Homo sapiens: one gene and its partner. The protein of the gene in region 1 interacts with the protein of each later gene in a pairwise test. Each region holds a gene or a part of one and is shown in the gene's direction. Other genes may lie near its edges.

Region 1 (3,755 bases):
GCCTTTTCACCCTGATGTCCTTAGAGATAATATGGATCAGTCCAGAGTTCTCCTCTGGGTGAAAGCAGAACCCTTTATAGTGGGTGCCTTGCAGGTCCCCCCTCCATCCAAGTTTAGTCTTCACTATCTCAGGAAGATATCCACCTATGTGCAAATCCGGGCCACAGAAGGAGCTTACCCGCGCCTCTACTGGTCTACATGGAGGCACATCGCTTGTGGGAAGCTGCAGTTGGCCAAGGACCTGGCGTGGCTTTACTTCGAAATATTTGATAGTCTTTCAATGAAGACACCTGAGGAGCGCCTGGAATGGTCTGAGGTTCTGTCCAACTGCATGTCTGAGGAGGAAGTTGAAAAGCAGAGAAATCAGGTACGGATTGATATGTGTGTATACTTAATTACTTTTGGAAAGAAACCATTCTTTTTTAAATTAAAAAATGTTTTTGCTTATTACAATTTTTAGATAGAAACAGAGTTTCACTTTGTTGCCCAGGCTGGTCTTGAACTCCCGGCTTCAAGCAGTCTTCCTGCCTCGGCCTCCCAAAATGTTAGGATTACAGGCATGAGCCACCATGTCTGGCCCAATAAACCATTCTTAATTTTTGTATTAGCTGTAAAATTTTAGGTTTTAGGCTAATGGCCATTGTAATCTCAAGTTATCATTTGAGTTTTAGTAGTTCCAGTTTGGCAGTATTTCATGTATTCAATGAATTAGTCCTTACTTACCAGACCTTACTCACCTACTCCCAAAGCAGTAATGTTACAGAGACCCTGTTATTGAAAAAGGGAAATATTTTACTGACTTTAAAAAGATTTTGGGGTGAATGAGTGTTATGAACAACTGATATGTTACAGTCAGAGCACCTGACTATTTTAAAATGAACATCTGCTACATGATGGGATTCAAAGATGATTAGGATAGCATCTCAACCCTCATGGAGCTTATGGACTAGTAGAGGAAGCTGGTATTAAAAAAAGATGCTATTTAATAGTGTGATATGTATAATAAAAGAATACACAAAGTACAGAAATTGAATAAAGAATGATTTATTTCAGTGATAAGGAAAGACTTCACAGAGAAAGTATATTAATCAAGTAGGCTGATTATAGTAATAGACAACCCAGTATTTCAGTGGCTTAGAACAGTAACAGTTTATTTCTCATTCAGGCAGCAATCTAACACAGTTGCTCCTGGTTGGACAAATCTCTGGGCTGCTGTCATCCAAGCGATGACCAGGGATCCATGCTTCTATCACTTGGAGTCACTGTTAATCAGCTTTGTTAAAAGCTGATTTCATTCATTAAGAACAAACAAATGAAATTCCAGTGGCTTACAGGGGAAAAGGTTTATTTCTTGCCCATTTTACATGTGGGCTTCATTTTTGCTATGGCATTTGTCCAGGCTCCGTGTTTCCCCATTTAGGGACACAGGCTAAAGAAATAGCTTCTGTGTAGATCATTCCCATTCTTATAACAGAAGGGAAGATCAACAGAATGGAGGAAACTCATGATGTCTCTTTTTAAATTCTTATTTTATGTATACAGCTCAATCAGTTTGGGGATAAGTATATGCTGTGAAACCATCATGACCGTCAAGGACATAGACATACCCATCACCCCCCATAGGTTCCCCCTCCTCTTTTATGCTTGTTATTTTGTGTGTGTATCTGTTAAGAACACTTAACATAAGATCTACTGTCTTAGAGAATTTTAAGTATACAACATGTAATTGTTATCTCTAGGCGGTATGCTGTAGAGTAGATCTTCAGAACTTAATTTTCTTGCATAACGGAAACTTTGTAGCCTTTGACCATCAACCTCCCCATTTCCCCCTCCTCCTAGCCCTTGTCAGTCACCCTTCTGTCTGTTTTTATGAGTTTGACTATTTTAGATTCCACATATAAGTGAGATTACATAGCTTTGTCTTTCTGTGTCTGGCGTGTTTTACTTAGCATAATGTCCTCCAGGTCCATCCATGTTGTTGAAAATGGCAGGATTTCTCTCTCTTTCTGTTTTTAAGAGACAGGATCTCACTCTGTTGCCCAAGCTGGAGTACAGGGATGTAATCATAGCTCACTATAGCCTGGAATTTCTGGGCACAAGCAATCCTTCCACCTCAGCCTCCTGAGTGGTTAGGACTACAGGTGTGTGCTATCATGCCTGGCAAATTTTTGTATTTTTTTCATAGAGGTCAGGATCTCACTGTGTTGCCCAGGCTGGTCTTGAACTCTTGGCCTCAAGTGATCCTCCCACCTCAGCCTCCCAAAGTGTTGGGATTACAGGCATAAGCCACTGTACCCAACATGATTTCTTTCTTTTTTAAGGCCAAATGGTACTCCATTATATATGCATGCCAAGTTTTCTTTATCTAGTCATCCATCTGTGGACATTTAGGCTGCTTCCATATCTTGGCCATTATCAATAATGCTGCAATGAACATGGGAGTGCAGGTATTTGCAGGATCCTGATTTCAATTCCTTTGGATAAATACCCAGAAGTGGGATTGCTAGATCGTATGGTAGTTCTCTTTTTTATTTTTTGAGAAACCACTATACTATTTATTTATTTTTTTTTTGAGACGGAGTCTCGCTCTGTCGCCCAGGCTGGAGCGCGGTGGCGCGATCTCAGCTCATTGCAAGCTCCACCTCCCAGGTTCACACCATTCTCCTGCCTCAGCCTCCTGAGTAGCTGGGACTACAGGCACCCACCACCATGCCCGGCTAGTTTTGTGTATTTTTTAATAGAGATGGGGTTCACCATGTTAGCCAGGATGGTCTCAATCTCCTGACCTCATGATCCGCCTGCCTCGGCCTCCCAAAGTGCTGGGATTACAGGCGTGAGCCACCGCGCCCGGCCCTATTTTTTATAATGGCTGTACCAGTTTACATTCTCACTGACAGTGTACCAGGGTTCCCTTTTCTTCACATCCTTACTAATACTTGTTAATCTTTTGTTAACAAGTGTGAGGTGATATCTCATTGTGGTTTTGCTTTATATTTCTCTAATGAGTAGTGATGTTGAGCACCTTTTCGTATACCTGTTGGCCATTTGTATGTCTTCATTGGAGAAATGTCTATTCAGGTCCATAGTCCATTTTTTAATTAGGTTATTTGGTTTTTCTTGCTATTGAGCTGCAGGAGTTCATTATATATTTTCGATATTAACCCCTTACCAGATACATGGTTTACCTTTTCTTCTGTTGATTGTTTCCTTAGTTGTGCAGAAGCTTTTTAGTTTGATATAATTCAACTTATTTTTGCATTGGTTGCCTGTGCTTTTGGTGTCATATCCAAACAATCATTACCAAGACCAATGTCAAGGAGCTTTTTCCTTATTTTTCTCTAGGAGTTTTACCATTTCACCCCTTACATTTAAGTCTTTCCTCCATTTTGAGTTGATTGTGTATGGTATAAGCTATGGTCCCAATTTCATTCTTTTGCATTTGTAGATCCAGTTTTCTCAGCATCATTTATTGAAGAGACTATTCTGCGTTTTGTATTCTTGACACCCTTGTGGAAAATTAGTTGACCATATATGTGTGAGTTTGTTTCTGGACTCATGATGCCTCTTAAAACTTTTGCTCAGATTTGACATAAACTAAGACTACTTTTATTCCATTGGCTAAGGCATTATTCCCATGAAGATGGGAAGGTAAACCACCTTTCAGGAGATAAGGAAAATCCCATGGCCATGGGTAGGGCTGTATAAGCCTCTTAGAGAATTTGAAAGTGAGCAATAGTAAATAATAATACAATTTG
Region 2 (3,755 bases), on another chromosome or scaffold:
GACTTTACTTTTTTGAGACACAATTTCTGAAACTGGGATTTATGTTGAGAGTCTCTAAGGTCCCTGATAATTTGTCGCATTTGTTGTTGTTTTTTGGAGAATATTTCATCACTACTCAAATGATGGTCCTCTGGTCTGGTGGAAGCTTCGTAAGCTTTGAAGCCAGATAAACCAGGGTTTCAGACAAGTCTAGAGCAAGTCAGGATATCAATAAGACCCAATAGGATGTAGGGCTGCCTGTCTAGGGAGACATTTAGCTTATCTTCCCCGGCAAAAAGGCTTGTCCCGCTCTCTGTGGCCCTCATTCTAGTCATGGCTTTTTCACTCACTAGTGTGTGGCACTGAACAAGTTATAGAACCACTTTGAGACTCAGCTTTCTTGTTAACATAGGAATAAGAGCATCTCCATTAAGGCATTTTAAGAATTCAGTGAAATAATATAAGAAAAACAACTATTACATAGATATTCAAAAACAGTAAGGATGCTGGCAGTAATGAGCATTACATCAATGACATGGGTTCCGTTGATCTTACAAAAGCAGCCCTACATGGATAATGTGGATTTGGGACTGATGAAGGCCTAGATATCTTCTCCACCAGACTGACTCTATCATGTCATCTCCCATGTCATCAGATACTCTCTGTAGAGACGATGTTTCCAAACAAACTAACGCACAAAATATGTGTAGGTTTCCCTAGCTTCAGTTCAACTGGAAATCTTGATTTTTATTTTAAATTTAACTTTTATTAAACACATGCTATGTGCTAAGCATGCTGCTGATTGAAGTAGCATGTATGAAAGAATTGTAGAGCCTAATGTCAGGTAGTCCAGGAAATCTGAGGAACTTAAACCAATACAGTAGCCCACCTTATCCATGGGAGATATGTTCCAAGACCTCCAATGGATGCTTGAAACTGTGGATAGTACCAAAGCCTATATAGACTGTTTAGTCCTATGCGTACGTACCTATTGTAAAGTTTAATTTATAAATCAGTCACAGTAAGAGATTAACAATAATAACTAACAATAAAATAAAACAGTGTATTGCTATGTGAATGTCTCTCTCTCTCTTTCTCTCTCATTCTCTCTCTCTCAAAATACTATAATATTTTCAGACTGCAGTTGACTGTAGGTAACTAAAAGCAAAGCCATAGATAAGGGTGTACTACTACATTTGGTTACTTTGGTGAGACTTTACTATGTGTAAGACACGGTGCTAGTTAAACATTTTATATGTATTATCCCGTTGAAATCTTATAATCTTTTTTTTTTTTTTTTTTTTTTTTTTGAGACGGAGTCTCGCCCTATCGCCCAGGCTGGAATGCAGTGGAGCGATCTCGGCTCACTGCAAGCTCCGCCTCCCAGGTTCAGGCCATTCTCCTGCCTCAGCCTCCCAAGTAGCTGGGACTACAGGCACCTGCAACCACGCCCGGCTAATTTTTTGTATTTTTAGTAGAGACAGGGTTTCACCGTGTTAGCTAGGATGGTCTCTATCTCCTGACCTCGTGATCCGCCACGGCCTCTCAAAGTGCTGGGATTACAGGCGTGAGCCACCGTGTACGGCCGAAACTTTATAATCTTTTAACTAAATGTAATTGTCACCATAATCTTATAGACAAAGCATTGAGGTTTATTGAGCTAATGCTGAAGGTAGTAAGTGGAGGAGCCAGGATGAGGTCAGAATCTGAGATTTTAACCATGCCTATGCTGTCACTTCTTACACTTTAGAATACCTCCATGCTCATGTGGACACCTAGGAACAAATGAATATTTCTATTCTTCTCCCAGAATTTCAAAACATTAAACATGTTAAACTGTATTTTTGTTTACCATAAGCCTTCCCAGGAGGAACAAGCACTAAACACAGTCTCTGGCTTAGGATTTGGATGAACATATTCAAAAGCCATCTGCTTCCCAGCAATCATAATCATACCCTTTCCTTTTGGCCACTATCACCAAGATCTCCAGTAGTACTTCCTCTCAGTCCACAAGAACTGCCATGAGCAGTTAAAGGTTCTCCTGACACGACCAGTTCAAGTTTTAGAGCTCAATAATATTCATGATGTAGGAGTATCAAGAGCTTTTCATTGGTAGCATTTTAGTTCCCCAAGAGATTCTGTTCAGGATAAAACTTAGACCTTAGGTAACTCCCTAGAAAGAACTAGAAACTTGGAATCCTGACACCATCTTGTGTTCATTTAAGCAGTACTTTCAAATTGCTGTTTTTCCAACAGGAACTCAGTTATCCTCTTCTTCTCAAATGATATCAGTTGCACAGCACTGTGTGGTGACTTGCCAGGTGTGTGGTTGAAAACACATCCATCTGAATTGTGCTCATGTAAACTGCACTCATAGAATTCACAAGGAAAAAAAACAAGGTTATATTTCAAAAGTCTCGATCTTAGACCTCTAAATTAAACCTGAATTATTCATTTTCTTAAAAAGGGGCTAAACACTGTGGTGGATGTTGAGATATAACTAGGACAGTATTATTTCATTTTACAGATAAGGAAACTATGGCTTACAGAGATTAATTAACTATGATTCCCAGCCTGTTATTCAAACAAGAACCACTGTGAGCCTGGCTATCTGCTTGATCCAAAGTAATCCCAAACTATACTATATACTATATGCACTACGAAATGTGCCCATTTACTGTGAACGAACATTTTTATAGTAATTTCATCACATATCTACCAATGGATCTTTTGGCATTCCTTTAAAAATATTGTTTCTTTTTTTTAAAAAAAATAAATGTTTCTCATTGTAAAACTTCCAATAATACAGTAATAAATTGTATAAATAAGAAGAAAAGTTCACTTAATCTTACTCCTCCCCATTTTACTCTATACTCCAGAGGAAATACTTCTGACATTTTGTTTGTTTGTTTAATCCATGAGCTCAGCCATTTATCATATCTTTGTGTTACAAACATTCCAAATATACTCTTTTAGTTATTATTATTATTATTAGTTTTATTATTTGAGATGGAGTTTCGCTCTTGTTGCCCAGGCTGGAGTGCAATGGCTCAATCTCAGCTCACCGCAACCTCTGCCTCCTAGGTTCAAGCGATTCTCCTGCCTCAGCCTCCCGAGTAGCTGGGATTACAGGCATGTGCCACTACGCCCGACTAATTTTGTATTTTTAGTAGAGATGGGGTTTCTCCACGTTGGTCAGGCTGGTCTGGAACTCCTGACCTCAGGTGATCTGCCTGCCTCGGCCTCCTAAAGTGCTGGGATTACAGGTGTGAGCCACTGTGCCCGGCCCCTTTTAGTTATTTTTAAATGTACAATAAATTATTGTTGACTGTAGTCACCCTGTTGTACTACCAAACGTTAGCTCTTATTACTTCTTTCTAACTATATTAATGTATCCATTAACCATTCCACTTCCCCCCAGCTCGCTACCCCTTCCCAGCCTCTGGTAACCATCATTCTACTTCCTAGCTCCATGAGTTCAACTGTTTTCATTTTTAGCTCCCACGAATAAGTGAGACCACGCCAAGTTTGTCTTTCTGTGCCTGACTTATTTCACTTGTCACGAAATCCTCCACTTCCATCCATGTTGTTGCAAATGACAGATTCTAATTCTTTTCTTCTGGCTGATTAGTACTCTATTGTGCGTACGTACAACATTTTCTTTATCCGTTTGTCTCTTGATGGACACAGGTTGCTTGTAAATCTTAGCTATTGTGAATAGTGCTGCAATAGACACAGGAGTGAAGATATCTATTTGATATATTGATTTCCTTTCT

The links. Proteins that work in one complex are often made in the same cells at the same time.
Region 2: the proteins of TBCCD1 (region 1) and LURAP1L interact in binary tests that used the Homo sapiens proteins (3 or more experiments, as listed by UniProt).

The regions. Positions count from the first base shown.
Region 1 is NC_000003.12:186,560,606-186,564,360, reverse strand, and holds part of TBCCD1 (TBCC domain-containing protein 1), read left to right. Parts: 5' UTR 1-31; coding exon 32-367; intron 368-3,755. UniProt on the Homo sapiens protein: Plays a role in the regulation of centrosome and Golgi apparatus positioning, with consequences on cell shape and cell migration.
Region 2 is NC_000009.12:12,778,004-12,781,758, forward strand, and holds part of LURAP1L (leucine rich adaptor protein 1-like), read left to right. Parts: intron 1-3,755.